Homo sapiens: one gene and its partners. The protein of the gene in region 2 interacts with the protein of the main gene of each other region in a biochemical or structural test. Each region holds a gene or a part of one and is shown on either strand. Other genes may lie near its edges.

Evidence for each region.
Region 1: the proteins of SMAD4 (region 2) and HNF4A form a complex in vitro, tested with the Homo sapiens proteins (one study listed by BioGRID).
Region 3: the proteins of SMAD4 (region 2) and PIAS4 form a complex in vitro, tested with the Homo sapiens proteins (one study listed by BioGRID).

Annotation. Positions count from the first base shown.
Region 1 is NC_000020.11:44,428,546-44,431,023, reverse strand, and holds part of HNF4A (hepatocyte nuclear factor 4-alpha), read right to left. Parts: intron 1,502-2,478; coding exon 1,359-1,501; 3' UTR 1-1,358. UniProt on the Homo sapiens protein: Transcriptional regulator which controls the expression of hepatic genes during the transition of endodermal cells to hepatic progenitor cells, facilitating the recruitment of RNA pol II to the promoters of target genes. Activates the transcription of CYP2C38.
Region 2 is NC_000018.10:51,061,119-51,064,773, forward strand, and holds part of SMAD4 (mothers against decapentaplegic homolog 4), read left to right. Parts: intron 1-3,655. UniProt on the Homo sapiens protein: In muscle physiology, plays a central role in the balance between atrophy and hypertrophy. When recruited by MSTN, promotes atrophy response via phosphorylated SMAD2/4.
Region 3 is NC_000019.10:4,017,729-4,021,383, forward strand, and holds part of PIAS4 (E3 SUMO-protein ligase PIAS4), read left to right. Parts: intron 1-3,655.

The DNA of each region.
Region 1 (2,478 bases), on a different chromosome or scaffold from region 2:
AGGGCGGGGAGGGAGGAGGAGAATAAAAAACAAAAACAATCTCTAGGTTAATAGGGAGGAAGGGAGGATTAAATGAGATGATGCATGTCAGATGCCTTAAGACAGTGCCTGGGAGTAAGGAAGAGCTTGAGACAGGCCCTGGGAGCTTATTCCTCCTGGATGTCACTCTGATGTGAGGGTTTACCCATCTTGTCCTCTCCAGCCCCAAGCCTCATTACTCTCACCCGCATTATATCATCCACCCCACCTGACCTCCCAGCTTCCAGCCTCCCGTCCTCTGCAGAACTGCTGTGTTCATTTTCTGGAAGCCCAGCTCCCTGCATACTCCTTGAAGCTGATCAGGACCTCAGCCTGGTGTTCCAGACCCTATGCTCTCCAGCAGGCCCTCTCTCTCTTCATCATCCCTCTCCCACACCATTCTTCCTCAATTCTTGCTAGATTCTTACTACCACTAGGCCTTGGCTCAGGCTGTTCTTTGGAATGTCCCATCTCACCTGCTCTACCAGCCAGAATTCTACCCTTTCTCAAAGGCCTGGTGGATGGTCTGCCTCTTTCTGATGCTTTTCCTCTCCACTCCAAGTTCCTGTTGCAGTCGCCAACCTGGGTTTGTTTTCTCGGGTTGAAGGCCTTCAGGGATCCTCACCCAAGTACCCACCCAAGTCCCTGAAGAAGGAGGATGAGGTTGGGTTGGAGGAGAAAGGCGTCTTCCCTCACCACAGCCTTCTAGACCCTGCCTGGTGCCTGGTCCCAGTCAGTGCTTACAACATGTTCCCAGAATGACTGGGGGAATCGTTTCCAAGGCCTCCTTGGCCTCTGGAGAGGTGGTGTTGGAGAAGACGGGATGGCTGAGCAAGGTGACAGCAGAGGGAGGCAGCAGAGGTGGGGGCAGCAGCAGAAGGAGGAGCAAGGTGCCCCAAGTGCCACAATTGGACCCAGCCTCACAGGGCTCTGTCTGGACACCATGACAGGGGCTAGGAGAGGAGAAGCACCAGGCTAGGGAAGAAGGGAGCTGGGTTTAAGTAAGGCCTCAAGTCATCTCCAGGCGGCTGTCCTTTGGGATGAAGTCGGGGGTTGGACATGGATGAAGGTGAAGGTGAAGGCAGTGGCTTCAACATGAGAAAAGTTGTCCAAGGCAGTAGAGGTCTCCCCAAGTCAAAGTCTTGTTATCCAGAGCAGGGCGTCAAGGGTGGCAGTGGGATGTGGCCCTTAGGCCATGTTCTCGGGCCCTTCATCCTTCCCATTCCTGCTCTGGGACTGGTCCTGGCATCACGTCTTCCTTTGCCGTGACCACGTGATCACCAGGTGCTCTCTTAGGGGGCTGGGGGGAGCCAGTGGAGCCCCCAAGCCCCAGCGGCTTGCTAGATAACTTCCTGCTTGGTGATGGTCGGCTGGGGGATGGCAGAGAGGGGCTTGACGATTGTGGCGACGGCTCCCGGCAGGAGCTTATAGGGCTCAGACCCTGAGCCACCTGGCGGTGAGGGCTGTGGGGTCTCAGGGGTGGCTGGAAGGACAAACAGACAGACAGGGGCTGCTCAAAATTCCAGCCTTTGTGGGAGTAAATGAAGAGGCCCGGGAAAGTTCTCCCCTCCCACCCTGCCCCACCTTGACTTAATTTCTTCCTCTATAAAATGAGAGAATTAATTAAACCAGATAATCCCTAAGGTCTTTTATTGCTCAACCTTCTGTGAGTCCCAGATCATAAAGCCTAAGTTTTATGAGGTCTGGAAGGTCCTACCACCCATCTCCTCCATCATTTATTTGATATGCAGACTTGGACTGCTTCTCCCAAACCAAGGCCCAGGCCTGGCTGTCCCCAGCGGCAATGGGATGGGTGACAGGGATAGTCTTTCCTGGGAGAAGGAGCAGCAGTTGATGAAACCCCGGACCAGCTGGCTCAAAAAATACCATTTCTTGGATATTTAGGAGATGAGTAATAGAAACTAATTGGCCTCACTCTCATGGCAGGTTTGGAGAGCAAATTTGACCCAATTGGCCATCTTTGTTCAATGGAAAACTTTCCCTGAGAACAATGTCAGTAAAATATCATCTTATCTCAGTGGATCACTTCATCCCATTGATAATCTTATCCTTTGAAGAGCTTTGCCCAATGACAAGTTTATACTTTGGAGGTTTCAGAGGATGGTCTAGCCCAGCAGACATCCTGACCCAATGGGTAGTCTCATCTAATTGTCTAATGGATAGCCTTACCCAACTGTGCAGCCTTACTTCAATGACCACTTTTACTTAATGGACAATGTCAACTAATGGAATTCTCACCCAAGAACATCTTCACCCAATGGGTTACCTCATCCAGTGGATTGCCTCATCCCAACAATGGCTTCATTCAGTAAAGGCTGTCAGTCACCTTACTGAATAAACAGCCTCAACAAATGGACAATCTTGCCCTTTATTCCCTACCCTGGAACCCAGAAAACTGTTGCATCCTGGTTCTACCTTCTAGACTCCACTTTCTCCTGC
Region 2 (3,655 bases):
GCACATGAGATGTTTTGATACAGGCATATAATGCATGATAATCACATCATGGAAGATGGGGTATACATCCCTTCAAGCATTTATCTTTTGTGTTACAATCTATACTCTGTTAGTTATTTTAAAGTGTACAATTAAATTATTGGCTACAGTCACCCTGTTGTGCTGTAAAATATTAGACCTTATTCATTCTAACTACTTTTTGTACTATTAACCATCCTCACCTTCCCCCAATCCCCCACTACCTTTCCCAGCCTCTGGTAACCATCCTTCTACTCTCTGTCTCTATGGGTTCAATTGTTTTGATTTTTAGATCCCACAGATAAGAACATGTGATGTTTGTCTTTCTTTGCCTGGGTTCTTTCACTTAACATAATACCTCCAGTTCTATCCATGTTGTCTCAAGTGACTGAATCGCATTTTTTTTATGGCTGAATAGTACTCCACTGTGTATAAGTCAAGCATAAAGAATTTTAAGCATACCGGAATAATACAGGAAGTTCCCCCATTGTACTCATTCCTCAGTTTCAGCCATTATCAAGTAATGACCAATCTTGTTTCATTCATACTCACTCTCTTTCTTCATTCTATATTATTTTGAAGCAAATCCTATATTAGTTTTATATGTAAATATCTTAGTATATATTTCCAGTAAAGGTTTTTAAAACATAAACACAGCGCCCATAATGATTAATTCAAAGGGTCTTAAATTCTTAAATAGGTCTACATAATTTTCTTTGTGTAAATGTTCTGTTATTGATTATGTTGGTTTAATTTTTCTTCTAGCTGTTTAAAAAAATAGAAGGGAACATCTTTGTGTTTATAACTTTTCTCATATTTTAGTTTAAGAAATTTGTAGAATTTCTAGATCAAAAGGCCATATTACAGTGACACCAGAGTGTGAGAACCAGGGTTACTGTGCTGGCTAGCAGTAGATGTCATAGTTTAATAAACTTTTTGCTGATTTAAGAGGCAAATACTTGTTCTGGTTAGGGAAAAGGTGATATTAGTGGGGCAGAAGCATTCTTTTAACGATATATATTTATTATCTTCTGTAACGGATTTTCTGTGTTACATTGTGTGTTGTGATTTTAAACATTTTTGTAGGTCAAGGGGTCTAGCCTTTTCATAAACTTTCTTTTTTTGAGAAATGTAATATACAGAAAAGTATGTAACACAAGTAAGTATATAGTCTAACATCACTAAAACCAATACTCATGTAACCACTACACAGATTGAGAACTAAAACATTATGGCATCCCAGAAACCCTCCTACCCCATGAATTTTGTCTCTGTCAAAACCTCTTTCCTTCTCCCCAGAGGTAGCTACTGTCCTGCTTTTTATGGATATCACTTTTTTTTTGCTCTTTTATTTATTTTTTAAATTTTTATTTATTTATTTTGAGATGAACTCTTGTTCTGTCACCCAGGCTAGAGTGCAGTCATGCAATTCGGCTCACTGCAACCTCCACCTCCAGGTTCAAGCCATTCTCCTGCCTCAGCCTCCCGAGTAGCTGGGATTATAGGCACCCGCCACCATGCCTGGCTAATTTTTGTATTGTTAGTAGAGATAGGGTTTCACCATGTTATCCAGGCTGGTCTTGAACTCTTGGCCTCAAGTGATCTCTGCCCCATCGGCTCCCAAAATGCTGGGATTACAGGCATGAGCCACCATGCCTGGCCCTTTTAAAGTGATGAATACATCCCTAAACAGTCTAGTAATCTGGCTTTACTTGTTTTTTTTTTTTTTTTTTTTTTTTGAGACGGAGTCTCGCTCTGTCACCCAGGCTGGAGTGCAGTGGCGCGACTTGGCTCACTGCAACCTCTGCCTCCCGGGTTCACACCATTCTGCCTCAGCCTCCCAAGTAGCTGGGACTATAGGCGCCCGCCACCACGCCCGGCTAATTTTTGTATTTTTAGTAGAGACGGGGTTTCACTATGTTGGTCAGGCTGGTCTCGAACTCCTGACCTCTTGATCTGCCCGCCTCGGCCTCCCAAAGTGCTGGGATTACAGGCGTGATCTACCGTGCCTGGCCCTCATTTTCTTTTTACCTAGCTTTATAAATACTTGTTTAAAACAATTTAACATTTGGACTGATTGTGTAAAGACCACTTTTAAGTGTTGTTACTGTTTTTTGTTGTGTTTTTTTTGGCCACCAAAACATTGGGTAATTGTTGTCTTAGACAATCTCTGTAGTTTTGGTTTAACCAGTGTACCTATCAGTTGTTTGCTGAAGCTTCTTGTCCATAGCATAATGTGATACCTTCACATTACATTTTCTATAGACAATATATATATATTTTTTTAAATTTTTGAGACGGGGTCTCACTCTGTGGCCTGGGCTGGAGTGCAGTGGCACTCTCATGGCCCACTGCAGCCCTGACCTCCCAGACTTAGGTGATTCTCCCATCTCAGCCTCCCGTGTAGCTGGGACTACAGGTGGACACAACCACGCCCAGCCAATTTTTCTATTTTTCGTAGAGACGCGGTTTCACCATGTTGCCCAGGCTGGCCTTGACCTCCTGGGCTCAAGTGATCTGCCCATCTTGGCCTCCCAAAGTGCTGGGATTATAGGCATGAGCCACCATGCCCGGCTGAAAATAATTTCATAAATACTTCAAAACTGGCTTTTTAAGAAGACACTCAGTGAAGACACTTAGTGTATCACTGGTTTTTATGTTCTAAGCATAATGAAATATATGTAAACAAATATTTATCTTTGTGACAAGTTCATTAGAGTGACATGGCAAAACATTTGAGTTTTTAAGTTTTTGAATTATCCAATCTTCATGTGATCTGTTTTGATAACTCCTCATTGCATTGGAAAGTATTTTATTGCTTGGCAGCATTTTGAAAAGTAATTAGGGTACATAGCTTTTACAAGTTGTTTTCTTTTAAAAAAATTTTAAGCATCAATCATACTTCATTTTAGGTTATTTTTTTTTTTTCCGTAAGATCTGGGTTTCTTTTTTGTCATTCTAAGTAACTTTGTTGAAAGTAAGATTGTTGAAAGTTTTATTGCTTCAAATTCTAGTTTAAAGTTCATAAACAGCTTATTGAGATACAGATAAATCTTTCTTTTAAATATGTCGAACCTATTTCCACCCTGGGGTCTTTGCTTTCGCTTCCTCTTTGAAATCTGTTCAGTCTTCACATAGATAAAAGGTTATTCAGGTCCCATCTTTTCAGATGGGATGTCCCCTACCATCCAGTCTGAAGTGTTCTTCCCAATCATCTGCTGTTCCATACCCTGTTTTATTTTCTTCACAGTGTTCATTGTTATCTGAGTTATTTCATTTGTTTGCTTATTTGTCTGCCCCTGCACCTCTGTGAGAACAGGGACTGTAGCTGTTTTGTTTTCTACTGTGTATGCAGTGCCTAGAAAGATCCCTAGATACTCTGTAGATATCTGTTAAATGAGTTAAAACAGGAAAGCCAAATAATTTTTATGTATTTGGGCTTGATGTAATAATTGTTGTTTACAAATAAAAATTAGAAATACTTGATCAGTTGTCTTTGTAAACCAGAGTAGCACCTCTTTTTTCCCAGTGATTTAAAATTATATATTATTGTTCAAATGAGTACACTAAATACATCTCCAAAGTTAAAATTGTGGTAGTTAACATGACCTGACTTCACTAAAAATACCTTTTGCTA
Region 3 (3,655 bases), on a different chromosome or scaffold from region 2:
GAGTGCAGTGGCGCGATCTTGGCTTACTACAGCCTCCTGGCTTCAAGCGATTCTCCTGCCTCAGCCTCCCAAGTAACTGAGATTACAGGCACGCACCACCACACCCAGCTAATTTTATGTACTTTTAGTAGAGACGAGGTTTCACCATCTTGACCAGGCTAGTCTTGAACTCCTGACTTCAGGTGATCCACCTACCTTGGCCTCCCAAAGTGCTGGGGTTACAGGCGTGAGCCACTGCGCCCAGTCTCATTTTTTGTATTTTTAATGGAGACGGGGTTTCGTCATGTTGACCAGGCTTGTCTTGAATTCCTAACCTCAAGTGATCCACCTGCCTCGGCCTCCCAAAGTGCTGGGATTATAGGCGTGAGCCACCAGGCCCGGCCCCAGTCAGCCTTTTAAAAACTCCCTGTGTTTCATTTCTATTTAAACTTGTACAATTATGCGCTTGTCCTAGAAAACTGGAGTCAACAGCAGAGCAGTCCGGCCGGCGCCCTGCTGCCCGAGTGGGCCGCCTCGGTACACCGGGCCGGTGCTTGCCGCCTTCTCCCTTTGCATGTGTGATTGTAGGAATGTGTGGCTGTGTCCTGGCTGCTATTTTATAACCACCCCCCATACTGTGAGCATCTGCTCACAGCGTTAAATATTCATCGTCAGCAGCATCTCGTGAGGCTCCCTGGCAGCCTTGGGTGGAGCCAACGGCTGGGCCCTTCTTGTTGGGCTCTCGGATCGGGCCCAGGGGCTGCTTTTCGTGCCCGGGCCGGAGGGCCTGGCTGAGCACCTCACCCCAGAACCGGCTCTGCCTGGCAGGGCCCCCGTGGTCACCTGATCTTGCACCTGGCCCCAAAGGTGCATCTGGTTCAGTGGTGCCCTTGCCTTGGTCCCGTGGCCTTGGATGCTGGGCAGCCCACGAAACCATCTCCCCCTTGGGGAACTTCATGCTTCAGTGGCCCAACAAGAAGGAGCAGCAGAGTGATGTAGGGAAACTGAGTCGCTCCTTAGGAGGAGAAGGTTTGGAGAAAAGTGAGGTGGCGGGGGGTGCGGTTTTTAAATGGGGTGCTCAGCGAAGGCTTTCCTTCTGGTGACATTTGTACAAAGACAAATATAGGGCCATGAGGCTGGTCGGGGGAGGAAGGTTCCAGAAGAGGGAATGGCAGGTGCGGAGGCCCTGATGCAGCATGGCTGGTGGGGCCCAAGCAGGAGGCCAGGGTGGTGGCCGTGTGTGCGCCGGGGTGTGTGTGGCCCTGAGCAGGGGTACTGAGGGTCAGGGGTCTCCTGCGGAGCCATCCCAGGGGGCGGGCTCTGGCTGCTGAGACCGGCAGAGCTGGGGGCAGTCGTCTGCACCGGGCGGGATTTGAAAACAGAGCTGACAGGACTGGCTGAGGGAGTGGATGTTTGCAGGACAGCAGAGACGGGGGCTTCATGGATGCCACCTGGGTTTCTGGCCCCAAACAGCTGACCCCGAGGGCAGAAGGGCAGGTTTGAGGGAGACCCCACAGCCCCTTCCCCAGCATAGGGGGGCCGGGTGTTTGGGGGGAACCGTCAGCGGCCCGGGGCCAGTGGCACAGCAGTGAGAGCACAGGGCACCTCCCAGGCCCCCAGCAGAGAAGCACAGCCCGGTCTCCCCCAGAGGGAGGAGCCCTCCCAGGGCAGGGACCCCAGAGTCTTGTTCTTCAATGACTGGGCCCTGTCTGCCCCAGGCATGGGCTGGCAACAATCCCTGGCCAGCTGGGTGGCTCCCTTGCTGCCTGCTGGGGACCCACCCTTCTCCCCTACCTCCTTCTGAGACACTGAGGGGTGGGGTGTCTGTGTTTTCACCTCCGACCCAGCCTGGAAGCTCAAGGCCCAGCTCAGGTGTAGGCTCCCGTGCAGCCTCCCTGCCCCTGAACCATTGCTCCCCTGGCACTCAGGGCAGACCTGGGCGCGTCTGCAGGTGGCCTGTGTGCCCCCCTCCCAATTAGGCGGCCTTCCTCAAGGGCCCAGCCGGGACTCCACAGCCCATCACCTCTGCAGAGACTGGCTGTGCCCTGAGCATATAAACGGGAACCGGCTGTGGCAGCCCCCTCTTCCTGAGGGCCAGCCACAGACCCGGCACCGGTCCCCGAAGAAACAGGTCAACATGGGCGGGACGTGCAGGCTGAGGCCACAGAGGCCCTGGCAGGGCTGGGAGCCGAGCCCAGGGAGTCTGGCTTTTTTCTTTTTTTTTTTTTTGAAATGGAGTCTCGCTGTCGCCCGGGCTGGAGTGCAGCGGCAGGATCTCAGCTCACTGCAAGCTCCGCCTCCCAGGTTCACGCCATTCTCCTGCCTCAGCCTCCCGAGTAGCTGGGACCACAGGCGCCTGCCACCACGCCCGGCTAATTTTTTGTATTTTTAGTAGAGACGGGGTTTCACCATGTTAGCCAGGATGGTCTCTATCTCCTGACCTCATGATCCGACTGCCTCGGCCTCCCAAAGTGCTGGGATTACAGGCGTGAGCCACTGCACCCGGCTTCTCGTGGGTTTTAATTGAGAAAGTTCCAAGACAGTGCTGGTAGTTGAGGTGCGATCCCATGGCTCCGGTTCTTGTAAAGGCCCTGTCGTGGGTGCAGGCCACACCACTGTGTGCACTGCCGTCCTGGGAGCACCTGGGAGCACAGACATAGCCTGCGAAGCTGATGAGCTCCAGCCTTTACCAGGGGCAGTTCGCCATCCCTGTTCTAAAGGGCTTGCCTGTCATCTCGTTGTCTCGTCTCCCGGCCACTGCAAGGCTGCCATTGTGGCCAGATTCTCGCTCCCCCACGCTCTTCCGATATTTTTTACACTTATAAACAAATAGGTGTTTACTCAGATGCCTTCTCTCCATTTTCATTACACAAGTGATAGCAGGACGTGCACGCTGCTCAGCGTTTTTGCTTTGTATCTAAATATATTTTTTAATGTAGACACAGTCTTGCTATGTTGCCCAGGCTGGTCTCGAACTTCTGAGCCCAAGCAGTCCTCTCACCTCAGCCTCCTGAGTAGCGGGAATGACAGCTGCACACCAGCACACCTGGCTCAGGCTTATTTAAAAACTTTTTTTAGAGACAAGGTCTCACTGTGTTGCCTGGGCTGGGCTCCAACTCCTGTGCTACAGCGATCCTCCCACCTTGGCCTCCTGAAGGGTTGGGGTTACAGGCATGAGCCGCTGTGCCCAGCCTGCAAGTTTCTTTGAACGCATGTTTCCATGTATTGAGGGAAAATACTTTGGAGTGGGATTCCTGATTCCTGGGTGATAGGGTAGGTCTGTGCTTACCTTTATAAGGGTAGTTTCCCAGAGTGATGGTACTGTCTTATAACCCCACCAGCAGAGAGTTCTGATTGCTCTACACCTTTGCCATCTCTTAGAGTTGCCAGTCCTTTCATTTTAGCCATGCTAGTGGGTGTGTAGAGAGGTATTTTATTTTATTTTACCTCATTTTATATTATTGATACAGAGCCTCACTCTGTCACCCAGGCTGGAGTGCAGTTACACAATCTCGGCTCACTGCAACCTCCGCCTTCTGGGTTTAAGCGATTCTCCTCAGCCTCCCGAGTAGCTGGGATTAGAGGCGTGTGTCACCATGCCTGGCTAATTTTTGTATTTTTAGTAGAGATGGGGTTACCATATTGTCCAGGCTGGTCTTGAACTCCTGACCTCAAG